Regions from separate parts of the Homo sapiens genome. Here regions 1, 2, 3, 5 and 6 are each linked to region 4. The links come from fine-mapping of genetic effects on gene expression. A gene starts in region 4. Each other region holds a variant in brackets. All regions are shown on one strand. Distances are from middle to middle.

Region 1 (4,086 bases), 28 kb before region 4:
CATGAACTCCTTGTGTTTGTCATGTGGACTCCAGTTACTCACACCTGAATCTCTGAGGCCCTGAACATCTGTGTTCCCCCTTCCTTCCATATCTAATTGTTGTTTTTTTTTGTTTGTTTGTTTGTTTTTGAGATGGAGTTTCACTCTTGTTGCCCAGGATGGAGTGCAATGGCACCATCTCGGCTCACCGCAACCTCCGCTTCCCAGGTTCAAGCAATTCTCCTGCCTCAGCCTCCCGAGTAGCTGGGATTACAGGCATGTGCCACCACACTCAGCTAATTTTTTTGTATTTTTAGTAGAGACAGGGTTTCACCATGTTAGCCAGGATGGTCTCGATCTCCTGACCTCGTGATCCACCCGCCTCGGCCTCCCAAAGTGCTGGGATTACAGGCGTGAGCCACCGCGCCCAGCTATCTAATTGTTTTAAGGGGTAACTTTTATGTTAAAATTTATATTAAAATTGTGGCCAGGCCCAGTGGCTCACACCTGTCAACCTAAGCACTTTGGGAGGCCAAGGTGGGAGAATCGTTTGAGGCCAGGAGTTAGAGACCAGTCTGGGAAACATAATGAGACCCCATCTCCACCAAAAATTTAAACAATGAGCCGGGCACGGTGGCACACGCCTATAGTCCCAGCTACTCGGGAGGCTGTGGCGTGAGGACTGCTTGAGCCCACCAGTTCGAGGCTATAGTTAGCCATTACCACATCGCTGCACTCCAGCCTAAGCGACAGAATGAGACCCTATTTCTTTAAAACAAAATTAATGACCAACTATGATAAAAAGTCAATAGGTTGTTTGCAGTCAGCTGGTTTTCCAGTATTTGTACTGAGACACCTCTTGTCCAGGATTCCTGTAATGACACGCCATGGGCTGGGGAGGCAAGATTAAGAGTAAAATCAATAGCTGTGAAATGGTTTTCTCTGCAAGGCTCCCAGTTGTATTCAGCCATCAATTTAGTAAACTTCGCCTTATTACCAACTCTTTGTGACCAAAGGAGCAAACTGAGAAAATACATGATGTGCAAGCACCTTTCCTATACTTCAATATCACAGCCTCATTCACCTTCTCATCTCCAGTAAACTGATCCCACACTGTAGTTCTTATCCACACAGAGCAAACTACTGCTAAACCCTCATGGTAGATGAGGCTATTTATGCAGCTGGGCCACCAAGCCCTCCCCTCTCTCCCTTAAGAACTCAGAGAGACTCTAACTTCCCGCTCCAGCAGCAAATCTACTGGAGGAGCTGACACCACATGAAGAGAAGAACGTGGAGTCTACGGCCAGGTGCATGTGGCTTCAAATCCACCTCCACCTCTTACAAGTTATTTGCCTCTCTAGGCCTTAGTTTACTCACCTGTAAAAAATACAGAAAAATGCATACATATTATAGTTCCTGGGGCTAAAAATAAGATGTTTTCTTATTCTCCTGGGGCTAAAATAAGACAATTTTTTATTTTCCTGGGGCAAAAACAAAGTTTTTTTTAAAACTGGACATAGTAAGTGCTCCCCTGTTCCCATTATGGTGTGACCTGCAGCCTCAGCTGTGTTGTCCTTTCTAAGCCACAACTGCCAATGCTACATAAAGAAGCAGCTGAATCACAAGTGACAGGCACACCCAGTAAATTCCAACTAAAGGCTGAGATAGGAAAATAAATCATCAAGTGACAAGAAACTGTCTCATCTCAAGGGTTTACCCTCAAATCACACAGCTGATGATGCGTACACTTCACTATTATTCTCCCTCGTGTCACATCTTTCTACATGAAAATAGAACAAATGGCTGGGCACGGTGGCTCACACCTGTAATCCCAGCACTGTGGGAGGCTGAGGTGGGTGGATTACCTGAGGTCAGGAGTTCGAGACCACCCTGGCCAACATGGCGAAACTTTGTCTCTACTAAAATTACAAAAATTAGCCAGGCATGGTGGCAGGCACCTGTAATCCCAGCTACTCGGGAGGCTGAGGCAGGAGAATCACTTGAACTTGAGAGGTGGAGGTTGCAGTGACCCAAGATCATACCACTGCACTCCAGCCCAGGCGACAGAGTGAGACTCTGTCT[C/CA]AAAAAAAAAAAAAAAAAAAAAAAAATAGAGTAAATGACTAGATCTACCATATGACCTTCAATACACATGTGGCTCTCCCAAGGTATGCCCTTTAGTAATAACAAATAGAGAAGACCCCGATCAGTGCCCCGGGGTAGGACAATGGTCATGAGGCCTCCTGCAATTAGGCTGTTGCTAATACAAGCCCCAATGGAGACACTATCCTGAGACCATGTAGATAACACATGCTGTGAAACACAATTTCAGTGAAGAGAATTTTTTTCTTCTGACCATCTGAAACATATGCAGCTAACCACCAACAATGCTTGTGCAACTTCCTCCATTAGCCTAAATACTTCTGTCTTAGTCAGCTCAGACTGTGCAACTTTTATAAACAACATCGATTCATTGCTTACAGTTCTGGAGGTTGGGAAGTCCAAGGTCAAGGCACTGGCAGATTCGGTGTGTACTGAGTGCCATTCCTCATGGATGGCACCTCCTAGCTCTGTCCTCACATAGCAGAAGGGACAAAGAAGCTCCCTCGGACCTCTTTTGTGAGGGCACTGATATGGTTGGAGGTCCCCTTCAAACTGCATGATGAAATGCAATCCCCAGTGTTGGAGGTGGGGCCTGCTGGGAGGTGTTTGGATCATGGGGGTGGATCCCTCGCGGCTTGGTGCTGTCCTCATAATAGTGAGTTCCAGCAAGATCTGGTTGTTTAAAAGTGTGTGGCACCTTCCATCTCTCTCCACTGCTCCCACTCTCGCCATGTGACTGCCTGTTCCCACTTCACCTTCGGCCATGAGTCAAAGCTCCCTGAGGCCTCCCCAGCAGCCAAAGAGAAGCCTGTACCATGCTTCCTGTACAGCCTGCAGAACCATAAGCCAACTAAACCTCTTTCCTTTATAAATTGCTTTATAGCAACAGAAGAACAGCCTGAGACAGGCACTAATTCCATTCATGAAGGCAGAACCCTCATCAGCTAATCACCTAATCACCTCCTAAAGGCCCCACCTCGAAACACAATTGCACTAAGATTCACAACATGACTGTGGAGAGCCATAAGCATTCAGACCACAGTAGCTACCTATTTCCTTGCCTCCTGACTATGCCTGGTGTAACCTCACAGTTAGGTGGTCTCACATCTCTTCAATGATCTTGACTTTTCCACAAGAATCTCACTTCCACAGGTGGGTCGTCTGCAGCATACTACTAGCTCATTAATACACTTTATTTATAGTGGCTAGGGTTGTAACACTGCAGGCTTCCCTTTGATGACTCAATTCAATACTCCACAAAGATTTTCATCCTAGTTCATGAAACGTCATTAACACTGTTAGTCATTTACAACTGAGGGAATTCTCTAGAAGCAGTAAAAGCTTTCTTGTTTCTTCTTTTTCATTTTACATAGGAACAGGCCAAGCACAGTGGCTCATGCCCATAATCCCAGCACTTTGGGAGGTCAAGGGGGGAAGATCGCGTGAGCCCAGGAGTTTGAGACCAGCCTGAGCAACATAGGGGGAACCTGTCCCTACAAAAAATAGTTGGGCATGGTGGTGCACACCTGTAGTCCCTGCTACTTCGAAGGTGAGGCAGGAGGATCGCCTGCGCCTGGGAGGTAGAGGCTACAGTGAGCCATGATCACACCACTGCACTCCAGCCTGGGTGAGGAAGCGAGACCCTCTCTCCAAAAACAACAACAACAAAAAGGAATGGCCTCTTTCTTGTAGTTTTGTCTTCTCTCTCTAAAGACAAACCATCAGTATTTATCACTCAAGTCCAGTTGTCCTTTCTAATACTTATACTGGTGGTCCCATGAAAGCTCAGGGACACAGCATCCTTTTCCCAGCAGGGTAGAAGCCTAAAGCTCTGGGCTCAAAGGTAAAAAAATACTCATTTGCATGTAATTTTGCATAAACTCTCTTGTTTAGTTCCAGATGCCCAATTCTAAGTATGCAAAATAAAATGAAATCATTTATACAGCTTACTGCTTCCAGTGTTTTCAATTCAATGCTTTAACAATAAAAGCAAAAAGAAAACCTTCT
Region 2 (4,086 bases), 110 kb before region 4:
GACCAGCTTGGGCAACATAGTGAGACCATGTTTCTATTAAAAAAAAAAAAAGTTTTAAATAAACTGGGCGTGATGTCACATGCCTGCAATCCCAGTTACTCAGGAGGCTGAGGTGGGAGGATCACTTGAGCCCAGGAGTTTGAGGCTACAGTGAGCTCTGATGGCACCACTGCACTCCAGCCTGGGCAACAGAGACCCCGTCTCAAAAAAAAAAAAGAGAGAGAGAGAGAGAGAGAGAAAAGTACTTTACTAATGAAACCCTGGAAATAGAAATCAGGTCAAGATTGGCCATTCCAATGGCTGTCTAGGACAGAGACCGAGTTTCTACTTTTGCAACCTCTATTTGGACATTTAACACCTGTTCACTTATCAAAGCGGGACTTGTAGGATCAACAGGGGACAGCCACTGGCCCACCCTGCCTGAAAGAAACTACACCACTATGCTTTACAAGACCCTAAATATATGGCCTTTCATAAATTTAACAGGCATAAAACCAATTAATCAAAATTGTTTTACATAAATATCAAAAGCAATGCATTTACTTATAAGGTCCTTAAAACTCAGTCACAAAATTATGATATGTATGTAAGTAACCGCAACATGCACAACAGTCCCTCAGAGCTATGAAGTCATTTCACGGGTCACCCCCAAACCCCATGACATTGCCACATCGGGACATCCTAACTCAACAGCAGGGCTGCAGAGAGCAGAATAGAGTGGCACAAAACAGACCAGAGGCCAGACTCCCTGGTGTGAACACCTGGATCATCAGACAGAACTAAAGCTCTTCATCTGCCCATCCCCTAGCAACAAAATTCCAGGACAGCTGCCACAAAGGACCCCAGCCGCACCCACAGCAAGCTTCACACACAAGTGCCTCCAAAACACTGCAGACTGAGGTCAGCGTGGCCATTCTGGAGTGAGCAGACGTACCTTATTTCTGTCCAAGTCCGATGGCTGAAGAGCTCCATTCTCGAGATTCTTGGGATCTTTTTCTCGGATTGTGAAGATCCAGTCCCCAGAATCACTGCCCCCCGAGGCTTGGCCATCTGTTTCCCTTAACACAGAAATGCAGGAAATCCCATCAGTGCTCGCACACCTGCTCTGGGGGCGCTGGGACGTTCAGGGGGAGGCCGCCTGGGGACCTCTAAACCCACACCCACCAGCCCCAAGTCCCCACCCATCACACCCTTGTCCAGTCCCTCTGGGATTTCCCAAAGACCCCCCCGCCTCCTCCCTCACAGAGAAGAGACCATCGGGAGGTGGTTCCACAACTCCCTGGCGTGCCAGTGTGTGCATGCCCACCCTCCTCCTCCTCCCGGAGAACACCTCCCCCACCTCCCTGGGAGCCCATCTCTGGGACATCAGCTTCTCTCTGCTGGGCTCCTCCTCTCACCAGGGAAGCAGATGTCCCTGTGTTGGGTGTGGTGGCTCATGCCTGTCATTCCAACACTTTGGCCTCACCTTGGCCATCTCTCAGCCCTGGTTCTGGGATTCACACTCACTGCCTCTATTTGGTACCCTCCACTCGCTCCAAAGCCCACCCGTGTCCCTCCGAGCGCTCCCTCCCCCATCATGAGATGATGGTGTGCTGATCACTCCCTGTCCTGTATGGGCCTCAGAGGCAATGAGCCCCAGGCCCTGCTGATCATCCCCTGATGCCTGTGGCCCCATTAAGCCTGCACCTCCTCCCGCCCCTCGGCCATACCTCTCCCCTCTCACTCACAGGCGGAGCCTCACCCTCACACCTAGGGGCCAGCCTCACTCCCCCACATGCCCCAACTGACACCCTTTTTTCTCTCGGCTCAAGTGACCTCCACAGAGCAGTGGCCCCTAAGCCCGCTTCACCTGCCCAGCTTTCTCACCTGAACTCCACACCTCGGTGCCACTTCACACTGGACGTCTCTCCTGGACAACTCAGACTCACACACGGTTCACCCCACACTCGGCTTCCCGCACCACACATCACAACACCTGGTGCCACGCTGCCCCAGCCTGGAACATTGGCTTCCCTCCTTCACCCAAATCCACCGCCGCGTCCTGGCTCTCCAAACCTCTCTCCAGTCTCTTTCTCTTGTCATCCCTGTTGCTACCCCAGCAATCTCCCAATGGCAGTACCTCAAGAACTTCCGGGGGCAGTGGTCTCAACCTTGGCTTTAAACTG[G/C]AATCACCTAGAGACCCTGAAAAACCACTTAGGGTCTCATCCCCGGAAATCCTCATTCAACTGGCCTGGCACATGGACCTGCACTGTGGGCCAACTTTAACTTCTGCCAAGGCATGCACGAGAACAGACGAGTCCCACGCTCGGACTTCCAGACACAAGTCTGCCCGACCACCTCCCCCAGCCCTCCCCACACAAATGGCTCCAGCCCCACTCCGCCTCTTAAGCCAAGGGAATTCCTAGATGCCAAACTTGACAGCAATTCTCAGTAAGCCACTCCTGGTACAGAAGCTTCTACCAGACACAATACAGAATCACAAACACATGCATTTCTGGCCTTTCAGACATCCATGTAAAGCAGTTTCACCTGATCAGGGTTTTACAAACAGGAAGTTTAATGGAAAACAGAACAGAACAGAACGAAACAAAACAGAATGAAACAGCCAGGTCCAGTTCCCCATGCACAGCTCTACCACAAGAGTTCACTCGCAGAAACTCCACCAGCAACGTCAAGAGGCTAAACAACTCCCAAACAGGCCCAGGCTGTGTCTAACACAACAATTGCCACCAACCTGGATTGTCTAAAAAAAAAAAAAAACTCAACAGAAAACGAAACCCACACCAAACAGTGACAAAGACCAGCGGATCCCTCCCACACACATGCTTGGGTCACTCAGGGGCCGACTTACGCGTCGGAATCCTCGGAGCTCGAGTCGTCATGGCTCTGCTCGGCCTTCCATCTCTTGTACCTGTCGATGAGCTCGGTCAAGTAGGAAGTTTTCTTTGCATTGCGTAGTATAAACTTGTGCTTCAATAACTCCTTAGCAGTGGGTCTCTGGAAAAACACACCCAACAATTAAAGTATGAGATGAAGTTCTTGGTCCTACCCCAAAGGACAGACTTCTGCCTCAAAATGTCAACCGCCACACTGACACCTGATGGCTGGACTCTCTACTCCACAGCGCTTCTCACTGCAACTCACCCAAAGACGAGTCGCTCAGGACCTACGCCTGGGCTCTGGGTGCTATGGTGGGCAGGGCACTGTCTTTCCAAGGATGTCCCTAATAAATACATTTTCACAGAAAACTCTGCACAGAGCTTCACAGGGATCATTTAAGAGAGCTTAAATGATCTGGTCGGGCGCAGTGGCTCACGCCTGTAATCCCAGCACTTTCGGAGGCCGAGGCGGGCAGATCACGAGGTCAGGAGATCGAGACCACCCTGGCTAACATGGTGAAACCCCGTCTTTACTAAAAATACAAAAAAATTTAGCCGGGCGTGGTGGTGGGCGCCTGTAGTCCCAGCTACTCAGGAGGCTGAGGCAGGAGAATGGCGTGAACCCAGGAGGCGGAGCTTGCAGGGAGCCGAGATCGCGCCACTGCACTCCAGCCTGGGCGACAGAGCAAGACTCTGTCTCAAAAAAAAGCTTATCTCCTAGTTTATAAAATACTTTATGACAAATGCTGACAAAATATATGTTCTGTGTTGTTTAACTTTTTTTTTTTTTTTTTTTTGAGACAGTTTTGCTCTTGTTGCCCAGGCTGGAGTGCAGTGGCACGATTTCGGCTCACTACAACCTCGCCTCCCCAGTTCAAACGATTCTCCTGCCTCAGCCTCCTGGGTAGCTGGGATTACAGGCCTGCACCACCACACCAGGCTAATTTTTTGTATTTTTAGTAGAAACGGGATTTCACCATGTTAGCCAGGCTGGTCTTGAACTCCTGACCTCAGGTGATGCACCTGCCTCGGCCTCCCAAAGTGCTGGGATTACAGATGTGAGCCACCATGCTGGGCTGCTTTGTTAACTTTCTGTATTAACGTTTGGCCACATCCAACCATATAATAGAAATGTCAATTTGGAATTATCTCAGAGAAACTGGAAAGGAGCCAGGAGATCCCCTTTTTCCTGTCTGCTGAAAGAGCA
Region 3 (4,086 bases), 56 kb after region 4:
TAAGTGACATTCTTGAGGGCTGTGTCTCAGGCTTCTCTTTCTGGTTCTCTATGCGCTGCTAGGCTCACATGCCTGCTATTTGTAGGTAGATGTCTCTCACTGACCTCTGTGTGAGTCCGGACCATAACATCCTACTACCCATGACCCACTTTCCCCCGAGTCTGACAGCCACTCAGACGCTCTGTGGCCATGGCTGAACTCTTCATCTTTCCCACGATTGTGGCTTCTTTTTTTTTTTTTTTTTTTTTGAGATGGAGTCTCGCTCTGTCGCCCAGGCTGGAGTGCAGTGGCACGATCTCAGCTCACTGCAACCTCTGCCTCCCGGGTTCAAGCGATTCTCCTGCCTCAGCCTCCCTAGTAGCTGGGACGGCAGGCACCTGCCACCATGCCTGGCTAATTTTTTGTATTTTTAGTAGAGACAGGGTTTTGCCATTGCTAGGATGGTCTTGATCTCCTGACCTCGTGATCCACCCTCCTCGGCCTCCCAAAGTGCTGGGATTACAGGCGTGAGCCACCGCACCCAGCCGCTTCTTGCCATTTTGTTGTTGTTGTCTCAGTGAATGGTGCTCATGACACCCACTGGACTGCTCCACCTGAAATTTGGGAGTCGTCCTTGCCTCTTCTTCCTCCCATGCCTCAGCGTTCCATCAGGCATTCACCAAGCCCCCTGAGGCTCCTCCCAGTCTCTCCTCCATCCCTTCACCTGAGTTAGGGCCACCTCCGACTCCCCCCCAGATTCCTGCAGCCACCTCCTAATGAGGTCCCTGCCCCCCATCTTGTCTTCTTCCAACCCACTTTCTACACTGTATTCACAGTGATCTTTCTAGGATGCAAATTTGATCAGCATCCCACCCCTACCTCCACTCAAAACCCTCAAAGCCCTCAGAATAACGTTCAAACTTCCTAAAATGCCCCACAGTAAGGTGGCCTGTTCATGACCAAATTAGCAAACTGGAGTTTGTTCGGAAGAGAATCCTTTAAGACTGGATTTCCAGTCCTCCTCCTCCTGTGTGCCCAGTGGGATTTTGCCTTTGTCTCTCAGTAGCTTCCCATCTCTCCATCCTCCCAGGCAAGTCCAAGCTTTGGGGCTCAGTGGTACAGAAGCCCAGCAGGAAAGGAGGCAGTAGGAAGCTCTGAGAGGCTTTGCTTTTTTCATTTGTCTATTTCTTCTTTTTCAATTTTTTTTTAAAACTTAGAGAGAGCATCTCATTTTGTTGCCCAGGCTGGAATACAGTGCAGTGTTGGGATCAAAGCTCACTGCAGCCTCAATCCTCCTGCCTCAGCCTCCCAAGTAGCTAAGACTACAGGCTTGTGCCACCATGCCTGGCTAATTTTTTAAAATATGTTTTGTAGAGACCAGGTTTCGCTATGTTGCCCAGGCTGGTCTTGAACTCCTGGCCTCAAGTGATGCTCCTGCCTCAGCCACCCAAAGTGTTGGGATTACAGCATGAGCCACCACGTTCAGCCTCCTTTGTCTATTTCTTTTGAGACGGAGTCTCACTCTGTCACCCAGGCTGGAGTGCAGTGGTGTGATCTCGGCTCCCTGCAAGCTGTACCTCCCAGGTTCATGCCATTCTCCTGCCTCAGCCTCCCGAGTAGCTGGGACTACAGGCGCCCGCCACCACGCCCGGCTAATTTTTTTTTTTTTTTTGTATTTTTAGTAGAGACGGGGTTTCACCATGTTAGCCAGGATGATCTTGATCTCCTGACCTCGTGATCCGCCTGTCTTGGCCTCCCAAAGTGCTGGGATTATAGGCGTGAGCCACTGCGCCCGGCCTCCTTTTTCTGTTTCTTAATACAACATTGTCAGCGCACAGGCCCGTTCTCTGCTGCAAGGTGTTTCCATGTTTTCTTTAACACT[T/G]ACAATCACCTTGTGAGGTAGGTTTTGTTCTTATTGCCATTTTGCAGTTGAGAAAACAGGCTCAGAGAACTTAAAAGACTTGCCCAAATTCCGTAGTCAGCAGGAAGCAGACCTAAATTCAAGTCCACATCCAAAACAACGAATGTCTTCCACTCTCTCATGCCGTTTCTCATACCCTTTCTGCTCCTTTTGCACTAGATTTCTCCAATGCCACTTCCTTCTGCATTTTCACTTCTTTTGTGCAAGGGAAGTGTTTCTTCTGGCTTCCTGTCTCAGCTCTCCCACGGAGCCCTTCTGCCTGTTCTATTGCATTCCACAGAGCTGATGAATGAGCTATCACTGAAAATGGATCTTCTTATTTGAAAATATAATTATTAATTTAATTTTTAGAACAAGTAATTTGTATCAATGGCTCAAAAATTAAACACACAGAAAGATATAGAGGGAAACTATTTCTACTATCTCCCATCTTTTTGTTTCCCATCGATCATCACTTCCATTATTTTCTTATTTGTTCAGAGCTTCTCCATGTGGTACAAGTACCAATATCTATTCTGTTACCCCTTACCTTTTTTATTTATTTATTTATTTACTTATTTATTTATTAATTAAGACAGAGTCTCGCTCTGTTGCCCAGGCTGGAGTGCAGTGACACCATCTAGGGTCACTGCAACCCCTGCCTCCCGGGTTCAGGCCATTCTCCTGCCTCAGTCTCCCAAGTAGCTGGGATTACAGGTGCACACCACCACACCTGGCTAATTTTGTATTTTAGTAGAGATGAGATTTCACCATGTTGGCCAGGCTGGTCTCAAACTCCTGACCTCAGGTGAACCACGTGCCCACCTTGGCCTCCCAAAGTGCTGGGATTACAGGTGTGAGCTACCACGCCTGGCCACCCCTTACCTTTTATACAGAATTTTGCATACTATACACTCTTCTACACTTTCCTTTTTTCATTTAACAATAATATATATAAGAACCTGTCTTTTATCAGGGCATAGAAAGTTATCTCATTCTTTATTATAGCTGCAGAACAGTTCAATGAATGGATGTATTCCATGATTTATTTAGTTAGTTCCCTAGTGATGGAATTTGACTAGTTTCAATTCTTTGGCTATTATAGAAAATGCTGCAAGGAATAACCTTGAAGATACTTCATTTTGCACACATAGAATAAGTATGCCTTGTCAAAGGAAATACTTGATAGTGCCAAATATCTGTCATTATTTGTCTAATATTATATATTGTCTAATACCCATTCCCTGAATGAGAGTGCCTGGCCAACAGTTTGCATTGTCAAAGTTGGGAATTTTTACCAATCTTATAAACATTGGTATTTTACTGTAGTTTTAACATGCATTTTGTTTATGTGTAATGGGAACCGTCTTTTCATATTTTAAAGCTGTTTGTATTTTTTTTTGATAGCTGTTCATGTTCTGCTCTTTCCGGGATGGTGTTCTGGCCTTGTTGACACTTAAAGATTTTTGTATATTTCGGAGAGTAGTAGTTTGCTTGTGATATAAATCACATAAATACTTTTTTTAACTTTGTCATTTGTTTTCTGACTTTGCTTATAATGCTTTGTGCTATGCAAAAAGTGACTTCGTTTTTTTAAACTAACATACAGTAAAATTGAATTGTTTGGTGTGGAATTCTAGGAATTTGAACACACGTATAGACTGTGTAACCACCACTGCAATCAGCAGACAGAACTGTTCCATCTTCCCCAAAAAATTCTCGGTATTATCTTTCCCTCCACCCTTCCAGAGACCACCGATATGTTCTCATTCACTCTAGTTTTCTCCAGAATATCTTATAAATGGAATTATAAATATGGAGCCTTTGAGACTGGCTTGGCCCACTTAGCAAGCATAATGTCTTGAGATTGGCCTGATGTGTTGCCGCATTGATTACGTGTTCCTTTTGATTACTGGGTAGTACACCATTATATGGATGTACCACAGCTGTTTGTCCATTTACCTGTTGAAGGACAGTTCGATAGTTTCCAGTTCTTGGCAATTATGGATAGAGATATATAAGCATCTGTGTTGGCTGGGCACAGTGGCTCATGCCTGTAATCCCGGCACTTTGGGAGGCCGAGGCAGGCGGATCCCTTGAGGTCAGGAGTTCGAGACCAGCCTGGCCAACGTAGTGAAACCCCATCTCTAATAAAAACACACACAAAAAATTAGCCTGGCGTGGTGTGCACCTGTAATCCCAGCTAC
Region 4 (4,086 bases):
TCAAACTGATTCGCTATCCACAAAGGCCAATTAACCTAGTAAGTGAGGCATTTGTGCTAGATTCCAACCTGATGAACACGGTATAAATATCAACCTAAAGGAAATATTGATAAAACTTTTTTTTTAAATCATTACAAGAGTCCTTTCTTGCTCGACTAGTAAGAAATTACTTTTTTCACCCAGTTCACTCTGACCTACACACCTCTAAATTCATACCAAAGCGGCTTTAGAAAATACCAAGAAACCACATCTGATTGTTACCCAGCAGTCAGCAGAAGTTTAGGTTTTGAATGCATGCTAAATTCAACGCTCCTTAAATGAGAGTCGACAAAAGAATATTCTTCAAGCATCTTCCCAGTCACTCTTAAGATAATAACTTAACTGTTGCTGCTTAAATGTATATTTATTTACTGCTTAAACATATATACACACATATATATACTGCTTATATATACACACACACACACACACACACATATACACACACACACACTTGGACTAAAATTCTAGCTGCCATTAAAGTGGTAACTTTGAGTTCCTATTTTTCCAGAATTCAAACCTGAACAGTGAAATCCAGTTTTCTTTTTACGGTTTCAAAAAAAGAAGGGAGAGGGATGATCTCACTGGAAGAGGCGAGCAGACCCCAGAGGCAGTCCCAGGTCTGGGCTCTGTGCTTCTCAGCCCTCAAGACACAGGGAAGGAGCCTGTTGGTACCTGTAAATCAACCAGTAATCTACTTGGATGCTTTTGGTTTTCTTCAAACACTTAACGTTCACTCAGCTAAACTGGCAGAGCAAACTTTCATGACATATCCTAACTGCATCCTAAGATTTCCATCCTAAGCATTTTGCCACCATTTCTGCGCCTACAAAGTTTACAAGAGTTAGCCAAGGACGGTAGCTTTGTTTTTCAAAGGGCTAAAAGCAACGACAACGAAAACAACAACAACAAAAAACCTTTAACTTATACATGTAAATTTGAAATTCAACTCCTCTCCCACTCCCCAAAAAGTCACTGGTAGGCCAAGGTGTCACCAAGTACCGAAAGAGAGGTTTACTGGGCGAAGAATTCCTGTAAATGCAACCAAGTCTCAAAGTGAAAGTCCAGGGTCCCGGGGCCGGGCCCGGGACCCTGGTGCGCGGCTGTCCGAGGGATTCCTCCTTCCAGAAGGTTTGCAACTCGCACTTTCCCCCGGTCCGCAGGTGCACGGGGGCTCCGGGCAAAGCCACTGCAAGTGGAACTCGCGGTTACCTTCCTCCACTCCACCCTGCCTACTCCGCTCGGGCCCGGACGAGTCCAGGCGCGCTCCCCGTCCCCGCCCTGCCCAGGTCTCCCGCCCGCCTGCCCGGGGGTGGGGGACGAGCCTGGGGGACGCGTCCTGGGGCCCTCCGCCAACCCGGCCACCACGCAGGGCCCCGGGACCCGGCGGGGGCCTCCAAGGGCATCACTCCACCTCACTTCTCCCGGGGACAGGGCCACCCAGGGCCTGCAGCTCCGGAAGAGTGTTGGGGCGAGGGGAGCGCGGAGGACTAGGCGCCCGCACCCCCACATCCGGACCCAGGCCGCGGTTCCTACGGCTCCTGCACGCACACGCCGGAGACCTCGGCCGCCGGAGCCGGCAGGGACGCCCAGGGACTCGGACTCGGACCCCCGGCCGAGCCGGGCGCGCGGGGAGCCAGGCTCCGGCGCGACCCCGGCCGGCTGAGCGTAGGGGGACGCCGTGTGGATACCGCCAAGTTGCTGCTTCCGCCCCGGTCGCGCATCCCGGCCCCGCGGCCCGCGCCCGCCTACCTGCATGCCGGGCAGGCCCGACTGCACCGGGGAGTGAGCCATGGCGCTCAGGACGGCCACTTCCTGGGACGGGACGGCCGGGCCGCGACGATCCGCGCGGGGCGGCGAGGCCCGCGGGCCGCGCGCAGCCCTCGGGCGGCGGGGCCGGCCGGAGCCCGAGGCCACCCCAGCCCTGGCGGGTCCCGGCCGGGCGGCGGGGGCTCAGCGGCGGGTGGCGGGCCGCGTCTCCATGCACGGCGCCAGGGAGGAGCTGCTGGGGGCGCAGGGCCTCGCGCGCACTGCCGCCGCCGCCGCTGCTGCCGCTACTGCTGGGCTGGAGCCGGGCGGCCTGGGCCCGCGCGCGCTGGCCGCTGGAGCCGGAGTGGGCGCGCACAGCCCGCCGAGCCCGCGAGCGCCGAGCGCGTCCCGCCCCGGCCCGGCCCCCGCGCCCGCCCCCACGGCCCGGCCGGGGACCCCGCCCCGCGCTTCCGGGAGGGGGAGGGGAGAGGCCGGTGGCCGCGCGGGAGCCCTAGGCCGCAGCCGCCGCCTGTCGGCCCGGCCCGGGTCCCAGCTGCTCCTGCGGCGCTCCCACGCCCCCGCGGGCGGGCGGCGGGGCCGGGAGGGGGCCTCGGCTGGGGCGGGCGCCGGGAGGGACCGAGTCGGGGCCGGAGGCTGGCCGCGTGCCCACCGGGCCGGCGCCGGGGCGAGCCTGGGCCGCGGCCCCCTCTTCCCGCCAGCCAGCCCACCCCGCCCCGGCGGCCTCTGGGAAAACGCGTCCCGGGCGAGCCCCTGAGGGCAGGATCGGAGTCGGGGGCACCTGGGGAAGGAGAGCGCCCCGTGGGGCCTCGGCCGGTGGCCTGTGCCAAAAGGCCGGGCAGAGCTGCTTCGGTGTCTGGGTGAAGTTTCCAGCCAACCCAAGAAGGAAACCGAAAGGGAAGAGGCCGAGAGAGAGGTTAATTCCTAGTGCTTTGGTTACCGAAAACAGCCCGGCTGGGACTGCTGGGCTGGGAACTTAGCTAAGCAGTGCGGAGGCTGAACCCCACCATCTCTGGGATCCGCAGCAAATCAGAAGCCCCCACCCACGATAAGGGGAAAATGGGGCGCAGAGGGCAGGGAGGAAGGGAAGAGAATGGAAGGAAAGCGCGTCTGGACTTTGAACTGCAGCCCTCTCCCTCTTTCCCTTGCCTCGGAAGCTCCAGGCCCACTCAGCACCAGTTCTGTCTCCTCTTTTCAGCCGCCTTCTCTCTAGCTACTGAGGGGAAAAGTCAGGATGAAGCGGGTCCCTCGGCCTCCAGAAGGTGTTTTATTACAGTCGCAAACAGGTAGAGCGGCAGCCACCCCAGTGATGACTCCCTGCTCCTTAGATTGTAGGGACGCTGGCACCTCACTCATGCTCCTAAGTGGCCATTTTGCGCCCTGGCTGGGCGAGTTAGGCAGACAAAATGAGCCCCCAAAAGTTTAAAGGCCTCCACCAAAGGAGTATTTCTTTTCTGAGGTGTCATTGTATTCCATCCACGAACTTCAGTTCCCCCGGGTGCTCTGGATCTGACATGGAGTAGGATGCTAACATCTAATCCCTTCTTTCCCTTTGGAAAGATGCATGTTTTTTCTCGGAGTCCTAGGGAATACCTTAGAATACTTTCATGGTTGTCATTGGTACACCCATCCCTTGAGGAGCCCTGCCACCCGTAAGTAGGACTGCAAGGAAATACAAAATTAAGAGAAGTATGAACCCTGATACCCAGGAACTTAAAATCAGGTGTATAAATTTTGTACACCTAAAAAATATGGTACCTAAAGAGGCGAACAGCAAAACAAGCAAGAATGTGAATCTTTAAAATGTTTCTATTCTTCAGCGCAGCCCAGGAATTCTACCTAAAGTAACATATCCTAAGGCAACAACCAAGAAGTGTGGAAGAATGCATGTAAGAAGACACAGTGATGTTTAGAATCCTGGGGAAACGGAACAGCCAAAAAGTCTCACAGAGGTTAAGTAAATAATAGCATTTTCATACGAGTACTATGTAGTCATTTAAAATTATGTCTTTCAGTACCTAGTAATGGGGAAAATGTATTCATTATATATTATTAAAGAAAATACAGGGTACAAAACACTGTATATAGACTGATCTCAAATGACTATATATATATTAATATATATGGCCTACAGACACACAGTCATGTATTGCTTAACAATGGGTATACATTCTGAGAAATGTGTTCTTAGTTGATTTTGTCACGTGAGCATCATAGAGTGTACTTCCAGAAACCTAGATGGCATAGCCTACTACACACCTAGGCTATATGGTATGACGT
Region 5 (4,086 bases), 21 kb after region 4:
GACCTTCACTCCTGCTTTCCCAAGAACAGAATCCATCAGAAGAGAGATGGTTCTGAATCTCACCACCACGTCTGTAAACCTATTGACATTGGTCCAAATCCTCTCTTGTTGTTATAAAGGGGATGTGCCCTTTCTCACATCTGAGTCCACTTCCTCCACCGCCCCCTTCTCAGTGACCTCATGCTATCTCTGGTTCCCTATCACTTCTGTATCTTAAGTTTCTCATTTTGACTCAGTCTTTCCAATCAGCATTTAAACATGCTCATGCCTCTTCCATTTTAAAAGAAACAAAAACAGGCCAGGTGTGGTGGCTCAGCCTGTAATCCCAACACTTTGGGAGGATGAGGTGGGTGGATCACAAGGTCAGGAGTTCAAGACCAGCCCGGCCAAGATGGCGAAATCCCATCTCTACTAAAAATACAAAAATTAGCTGGGCCTGGTGGCGGGCGCCTGTAATCCCAGCTACTCGGGAGGCTGAGGAAGAGAATTGCTTGAACCCAGGAGGTGGAGGTTGCAGTGAGCTGAGATCGCGCCACTGCACTCCAGCCTGGGCGACAGAGCGAGACTCCATCTCAAAAAAGAGAAAAAAGAAAAACAACCTTCCTTCCACCTCACATACCTCTCCAGCTACCATTGCAGTACCTCTTTCCCTCCACGGACAAACTTCTTGGAAGTGTGTTCCATTCCTTTACCTTATCCTCCCTTCTCAGACCCCTCCAACCTGGTGCACACCCCCACCAGTCCTCAGAAACCATGTAGCCATATTCAATTCACCATAACCTAGGCAGATATAGTTCATGGGCAATTTGCAGCCCTCTGTCTTTTCACCATGGCACCTGACATAGTTGGCTATGCTGGCTTCTGGAAGCAATCTCTTCCATTGACATTTGTATTATAATGTTCTTCTGGTTGCCTCTGACCTTTGAGGTTTCTCCTTCTTAGTATCCCCAGTGGGCTTAATAAGTATTACCCATCCTTTATTGTATTGTATTGTATTTTTTTATTTTTTTTATTTTTTGAGATGGAGTCTCGCTCTGTCGCCCAGGCTGGAGTGCAGTGGCGCAATCTCGGCTCACTGCAAGCTCCACCTCCTGGGTTCACGCCATTCTCCTGCCTCAGCCTCCCAAGTAGCTGGGACTACAGGCACCCGCCACCATGCCTGGCTAATTTTTGTATTTTTAGTACAGACGGGGTTTCAATGTGTTATCCAGGATGGTCTCGATGTCCTGACCTTGTGATCTGCCCGCCTCGGCCTTGCAAAGTGCTGGGATTACAGGCGTAAGCCACCACGCCCGGCTATTTTATTTTATTTTATGTTATTTTAATTTATTTTTTGAGACAGAGTCTCACCTGTCACCCAGGCTAGAGTGTGGTAGCACTAGCTCGGCTCACAGCAACCTCTGCCTCCCGGCTTCAAGCAATTCTCCTGCCTCAGCCTCCCAAGTAGCTGGGTCTACAGGCGTGCACCACCACACCCAGCTAATTTTTCATATTTTTAGTAGAGACGGGGGTTTCACCACGTTGGCCAGGCTGGTCTCAAACTCTTGACCTCAAGTTATCTTCCTGCTTCAGCTTCCCAAAGTGCTGGGATTACAGGCGTGAGCCATCACGTCCAGTCTTACCCATCCTTTAAATACTAGAAGCCCTAAAGGGCCAGTTCCAGGCTCTCTCATCCTCTCGCTCCTCTTTACTCCCTTGGGTCTACTATACCATTTGCTTTACCTAATGATTTCCAGTGCACATCTCTAGCCTTCTCTCCTGAGCTCAAGACTTAGAAATCCATCTCCCTGCCCACTTCATTCGGATGTTTCCTAAGCTCAGGAGCTCCCCCTAGAAACTCCCTTCTCTTGTTCCCAACGTCGACTAATCAGACCACACAATCCCTCCTGCTCAAAAACATGGGACCCATCCTTGGTGATCCTTGGGTCCCCTCCTCCTGGTCAGTCAGGGAGTCCTATTATCCTAAATATAGGATCCTAAATTTCAGAGCTTTCTAAATAGTTCTCAAATCCATCCATTTCCTCCTTCTGTGCTGTTATCATCCTACCCGAAACCCTTGCTACTCGGTGTGGTTCAGCATTAGGAACATCATTATTTACCTGGGGGCTTGTTAGAAATGCGGTGGCTCAGGCTGGGCATGGTGGCTCACGCCTGTAATCCCAGCACTTTGGGAGGCCAAGGTGGGAGGATCGCTTGAGGTCAGGAGTTTAAGACTAGCGTGGCCAACATGGTGAAACCCTGTCTCTACTAAAAATACAAAAATTAGCCGGGCATGATGACACATGCCTGTAATCCCAGCTACTTGGAAGGCTGAGGCAGGAGAGTCGACTGAACCTGAGAAGTGGAGGTTGTAATGAGCCGAGATCATGCCACTGCACTCCAGCCTGGGCAACAGAGTAAGACTCCATCTCAAAACAATCAAACAAACAAGCAAACAAACAAAATGCAGTGTCTCAGGTGCA[A/T]CCCAAACACTGATTCTATTAATCAGAATTTACATTTCATGCAACTGCAAGTCATTTGCATGTTTGAGAGCATCTCTCTAAACCACTCTTATCTCTCCCCTGGTCTCCCTGCTTCACTCTTGCCCCTTCCAGTAGATTCTCCACCAGCAAACCAAATCATGTTTCTCACATACTAAAAGCCCTTCAATGGCCTCCTATTTTTCTTAGAATAAAGTCTATTCTACCTAGTCTTCCTTTAATAAGCTAGTGATTGAAGATACTGTTGTCTTTTGTCTTTCATCTTTACTAAATCTCTTTTGAGACAAAAAAATTGACAGCTTTAATTTTTAAAAAGGACCTTAAATCAAGAAATCTTTTAATTTTGTTCTTTTTTGTACAAATGTTACATTTGCTTTGCAAAAGGACTATTTCTCAGTTCGTGCCATTATTTCATATAAGAAATGCATACAAAAAGCCCTTAATTATTAAAGAAGTTGTCTTCTTTGGAAAACCCAATACATTATGCTCTGAAAGCTCTAGAGAAACCCCTTGGATAGATGGGATTAAAATCTGAATGTTTTAATGCATGGAAAATAAAACTCTTTCTAATTTTATTTTTGTATCAGGAAGACAGTGCCCTGGACATGATGGCCACTTCTTTAAAAGAACATCATCTGATGTGCCCAAATATGTTAAAAACAGGCTCAGCCTTCTGTTTCAATTCCCAGGTCAAAAGCCAGTGTGCAAAAAGGTTTTGTTGTCATAGGTAACCTATGTTCCAAGAAAACAAAGGCACTCTGTTCAAAGTCCAAAACTCAATTTAAAAAAACGTCTATTTCATTAGTTCAAATGCAAAGGAAAAGAAATATTTGGGAATAGAAATATTTTATAAAGCTACAGGATTCCATCCCAAATATAAAATTCAATGTGGATTCTCTTCAAAAGCTTTCTATACCTTGTAATTTGCAGTGGGGTTGTGGGGACTGCTGGTAGATCTTCACAAAGTATGTCTGGAATGTTGACTGAAATCCTCAGGCACTGCTGCTTTCAGGCAGCAGAGCCCAAGTTACTGCCAGCAGGCTGCAAAAGAGCATCTCCAGGATGGCATTAACCCCTCCACATCACTGGGTGGCCATCATTAGTGCCCTCATAGGGCAGTGTCTTCTTGCCAGAGAGGGCCACAAGCAAAGGCAAGATTTTCAATTGTTTTTCTTCTCAGAAACAGCATCTCAGCCTGTCACTCAGGCTGGATGCAGTGGTGTAATCATAGCTCACTGCAGTCTCAAACTCCTGGCCTCAAGTGATCCTCCCACCTCAGCCTCCCAGGTAGCTGGAACTATAGGCATGTACCACCACACCCTGCTGATTTTTATTTTTTTTAGAGATGGGGTCTCACTATGTTACCCAGGCTGGTCTTGAACTCCTGGCCTCAAGTGATCTTCCCACTTCGGCCTCTCATAGTGCTGGAGTTATAAGTGTGAGCCACCACACCCACCCAAAGGCAAGATTTTCTAGGGACAAATTCAGGAGAGATGACAGTGGCTTCTGCAAAGTAGGAATCAAATAATCTGAAATGTGTGATGGGTTTGAAGGGACAGAACTTGAGGGGAGAGGAGGAGAAGAATAAAAAACACTCAAACAACAC
Region 6 (4,086 bases), 120 kb before region 4:
CCGCTACAGCAATCGCACAGATCAGCAACCTCCAACTGCATCATCTCGGTGAGCAAGTGCGCAAGCAGTCCAGGGCGCTGACCTGGGCACTCGGCAGCTCCAGGCCTGGGGACTTCTCCCTGGAGTCTTCCAAAGTGTCTCATCACACACACACAGCCACGAGTACACACGCACGGCCACACATACACAGCAGGTGCCCTGTCCTCTGAAGAGTCACATTTCAAGGAGTATGCAAAATAAGCGTGTTATAAAATTTATTTGTGTAAGCATTCAGACATTTTTAGGTGGGAAAGATGATATGCAGAATCCACTACAAGGTGCAACAGAAAATCGTATTGGAAAGGACGGTACATCTGGCGCAGACCAGCAGTGGCACGATTCCAAACAAATGTCAGACGAGAGCGCTTCATGGGGAGAAACTGAAAATTATAATTTAAAGCTTCATGAGGCAAGATATGTTCCAATTTAAAACACTAAGAAATAGTACCATCGATGAAAAAGGAAATCAACCTCTAGGTGTACCAAAAGGGGCGTAGGGCAAACGGGGAAAATTTGCATTTGTTGAGGTACAAATAGGAGTGTTCTGTAAGAGAGGGGCATTAATTATTAATGACAAACCCTGCAAATACAAAATAAAACCCAAATCACTGGTCACAGAATTCAAAATGTACATGTAATAAAGGCAAGGCAATAGACTCAAGTTATGGCCTGTCGAATATTTACTCCACTGACGTTATCTACAGAAGCACTTGGCCAGTTTGTACACAGTGATTCCTTATGCACGCCGAAAGGGTTTCCGTAAAAATGACATTATATACAAATCTGTACACCCATCCACCAGAGCGATTCTCCAGCTCCCAGAGGGAGTTATCAACTTAAAGCAGGATACCTGAGGTTTCATGTCTTTAGTTGCCTTATCATAATCCCAAATATACATTTCAGGGTTTGTTTTTGTTTTTAAAGACACTTTCCTGGAATATGTGCACTATGGTTAAAATTAAAAACAAAAGTAATAAAATAAAATAAAATGATCGCTGGAAGGAGCTGACCCTCCCCACCCATCTGAGAGACTTCATCTGGCTGCAGCACAGTGAAGACTGTGTGTGTCCCTGGACGGGCGCCTGGCGCTGGGGTGGCTCCCAGTGGCGCACCTCTTCGGTGGAGTCAGCGAAGGCTCTCGTTGACTTTTAAAAAAGGAGGAGGATGAAGAAGGAAAAAAGGAAAAACAAAACCCCAAATGCCAAAGGAATTTCAGTGGGATGAAGTTCCTCCACCACTTAGAGAGTATCTAGGGAAAAAGAGAGAGAGAGAAGTCAACACATGTCATTTCTCATCCCTGTGCAAAAATTCATATAGTAACCAAAATCTTAGTTTTCATAAGAAATTCCAAGTCATACAAAAATAAGTGGAGCAAATATCAATGTGTAAGTCTAATTTTAAAAGAATGCATATAAAGACTGAGAAGATCATGATTCTTACACAAAAACTCCAGAGCATGTCACCAAAAACCAAGAATGGGTTCAGCCTCCCTGGAGAGATGTGAATAAAACGGGAAATCATATCCCTTTTACTTACGATCAATTGTCAAAAAGTGAACATTGATCCATACATGATGACACAGTAAGATTCCAGGGATGCATATGCATTCCCGATGTGAGGGCAGGAAACCCATTTTGGCCATAAAAATAGTGATGCAGTCCAAGAATCTATTTCCTA[G/C]AACTGCTTCCGAAATATGGTCCAAAGCAGGAACAACGTGTCTGCACAAAGATGTCTCTCGGGATTTTCGTAATTACACTAATTTGGAAACAACTCTGATGCCCAACAGTACAGAATCAGTTAAGTAAATTATACAAACTGAAATAACAGACTAAAAATGGTAATTATCTGTATTTACATATATATATTAAAGCAATATTAAAAATATGTACAAGTTTAAAAGTACATACAAAATTACAGATTGGGCATCCCTTATCTGAAATGCTTCTGGCTTTGGATCTGGGAATATCCGCATTATACTTACCAGTGTGCAGCCCCAAATCCGAAATCTGACATGCCCCAGAGAGCAGTTCCTTTGAGCCCCATGCTGGCGCTCAAAAGTTTCAGATTGGGGATTTGGGATATTCAGCCTGTATATGTGCACTATATAAGTATATTTACATGAACAACTTCTGTATCCTAAATTAAGTACTATAGAAATTCTAAAAAATCTTCTTTGCACTATAAGGTAGATAAGAGAATTCAGTAAGTTTATGACCTGGTATGACAACAGAAGGCAATGCACCCAAAGATGCTGATGAGATTTGGGCTACAGTGGTGGGATCATGGGTAATTTCTGTGTCTTCCAAAAATTCTACAAGATTGTCTTCAGAAGACAACAAAGGGTGAGAACGGGGTCCCCTCATGACCACAATTCCCTCAACCATTTTACAACAGACTCCAAATCACAGGTCCAGGAGAGATGGCTGAGGATGTCTTTGACCAGGCTTATCTCAAACGTTCCAATCTAGAGCTCCTCTTTTCAGGCATTTGAAATACTTGGCATCTCTCCCAGAGAACAAATGGTTACATAAGGTCCTCCCAAAAGCACACATTAGCCACGGAGCCTAAGACTCAACTATCAAGAAATACAAATGACTAAATCACGGGATGAGTTGATGTCACACAAAAGAATCCAAACATTAATTCCAGCTGAGACAGAAAGGCTCTGAAAATGCTTCAGAGGAGAGGCGGCTCTCATTTTTCCTACAGCCATCCACTGAAACAACATGTTTGGAGCAAAACTGGCAGGAAGTCTAAGCCATGGCCACCGTGGTTTTGGCAGCCATCGGGGTGAACGCTCAGTGGGAGCTTCAGGAGCAGGGAAGGAAGAAGTGGGTACCACAGCCAAGCCTGCAGAGAGATGATAAGCACCTCAAGAGGCAGCTCATCTGAGGACAGAGGAGGAAAGAGGGCACTCCTCATCACAGACAAAGGAAAGAGAGCACCAACTTGGCTTCCCCCATGCATCACTGCAAAGTAAAGTTTTAAACACAACACAGACATCAGGTAGCTACAGACCCGCCCGAGGGTAAATAGGGTCAACCCCAGCCACGATGCCCAGTGAGCACGTAAAATGTGCTGCGTCTGAATGGAGATGTGCTAAGTGTAAAACACACACCAACTCCAAAGACGGTCCCTCCAAAAATGTAAAATACCTTATTGATGATTGTTGTTATTAATGTTGAAATAATACTTTGGATCTGGCAGGTTAAAAAATGTATTGTTGAAACTAATTTCACTTCTTTTTGCTTTTTAAAAATATGGCTACTAGAAAATGTAAAATTCTCTTTTTGTTTGGTTTTTAGAGACAGGTTCTCACTCTGTTGCCCAGCCTGGAGTGCAAACGTGATCACAGCCATAGCCGCGAACTCCTCAGCTCGAACAATTCTGCAGCCTCAGCCTCCCAAGTAGCTAGGGCCACAGGTACAAGCCACCATGCCTAGCTAAATTTTTTTTTTTTGGTAGAGACAGGGTCTTGCTATTTTGCCCAGGCTGGTCTCAAACTCTTGGCCTCAAGCGATCCTCCTGCCTGGGCCTCCCAAAGCATTGGGATTACAGGCATGAGCCACCACATCCAGCAGAAAACATAAAATTCTGTGTGTGGCCCACGCTGTACTTCTACTGGCCAGCACTGGTACAGATCAACTTGCCTTAACAACTAAAAGAAGAGGAACAGAGAGATAGGGGCCTGGGAATGGGAAACGTGGATCAGTTCAACACATACAAGCCACACACTCTGTGCCCTGGAGCTGCCCTGGGGAAATCAAGTCACGTATATAAACAAACAGTTCATAACAATTTCAGGCAATTCTGGACAGTGTGGAAAGTATTGGTTTTAAAAGTAATACTACAAAAGCAGAGAGCAAAATGCCCAACAAGACAGTAACAATCCTACCCGTTTCTGGTTTTGTTCTATTTGTTTTATTATAAAGCTCTTTCTAATGGGAAATAAATGCCTCTAGAATGAGGTATGTGATGCTAAGTTTGAGAAATCAAAAAGTTTGTGTTCAGGCAAAAGATGGGTGACTTTTTAATTCTATTTTCCTT

Direction of the effects. Alleles are on the strand shown, and positions count from the first base shown. SD is a standard deviation of normalised expression in the study named. Not every link is listed here.
With allele C in place of CA in region 1, the expression in skeletal muscle of the gene that starts at base 2,154 in region 4 is higher (moderate effect, 0.49 SD a copy in FUSION).

What was found. PIP is the estimated chance that this variant, and not a neighbour inherited with it, causes the effect.
Region 1: its variant is the best candidate, but not a certain one, in a credible set for the expression of STK24 in skeletal muscle (FUSION, PIP 0.89).
Region 2: its variant is the best candidate, but not a certain one, in a credible set for the expression of STK24 in whole blood (INTERVAL, PIP 0.70).
Region 3: its variant is the best candidate, but not a certain one, in a credible set for the expression of STK24 in whole blood (TOPMed, PIP 0.78).
Region 5: its variant is the best candidate, but not a certain one, in a credible set for the expression of STK24 in whole blood (INTERVAL, PIP 0.63).
Region 6: its variant is the best candidate, but not a certain one, in a credible set for the expression of STK24 in cerebellum (GTEx, PIP 0.61).

Annotation. Positions count from the first base shown.
Region 1 is chr13:98,546,800-98,550,885 of GRCh38, forward strand. The region is part of intron 1 of STK24 (serine/threonine kinase 24); the gene reads right to left. Among named protein-coding and RNA genes, the nearest start is that of STK24, 28 kb to the right of the region's middle. The variant C/CA (reference allele first, on the strand shown) is at 2,062.
Region 2 is chr13:98,460,840-98,464,925 of GRCh38, forward strand. It overlaps STK24 (serine/threonine kinase 24), which reads right to left. Exons shown (of 11, transcript NM_001032296.4): 7 at 2,852-2,997; 8 at 935-1,058. Among named protein-coding and RNA genes, the nearest start is that of FARP1-AS1, 27 kb to the left of the region's middle. RefSeq lists an enhancer at 2,878-3,379. The variant G/C (reference allele first, on the strand shown) is at 2,166.
Region 3 is chr13:98,631,052-98,635,137 of GRCh38, forward strand. No RefSeq gene overlaps it. Among named protein-coding and RNA genes, the nearest start is that of STK24-AS1, 56 kb to the left of the region's middle. The variant T/G (reference allele first, on the strand shown) is at 1,862.
Region 4 is chr13:98,574,954-98,579,039 of GRCh38, forward strand. STK24 (serine/threonine kinase 24) reads right to left here and starts at 2,154. Exons shown (of 11, transcript NM_001032296.4): 1 at 1,792-2,154. The coding sequence starts at 1,833. It overlaps STK24-AS1 (STK24 antisense RNA 1), which reads left to right and starts at 2,302. Exons shown (of 1, transcript NR_046542.1): 1 at 2,302-3,888. RefSeq lists silencers at 1,188-2,057, 2,108-2,417, 2,438-2,587 and an enhancer at 2,678-2,867.
Region 5 is chr13:98,596,413-98,600,498 of GRCh38, forward strand. No RefSeq gene overlaps it. Among named protein-coding and RNA genes, the nearest start is that of STK24-AS1, 21 kb to the left of the region's middle. RefSeq lists an enhancer at 388-437. The variant A/T (reference allele first, on the strand shown) is at 2,463.
Region 6 is chr13:98,451,922-98,456,007 of GRCh38, forward strand. FARP1 (FERM, ARH/RhoGEF and pleckstrin domain protein 1) reads left to right here. Exons shown (of 27, transcript NM_005766.4): 27 at 1-3,255. STK24 (serine/threonine kinase 24) reads right to left here. Exons shown (of 11, transcript NM_001032296.4): 11 at 1-1,288. The coding sequence ends at 1,252. Among named protein-coding and RNA genes, the nearest start is that of FARP1-AS1, 18 kb to the left of the region's middle. The variant G/C (reference allele first, on the strand shown) is at 1,717.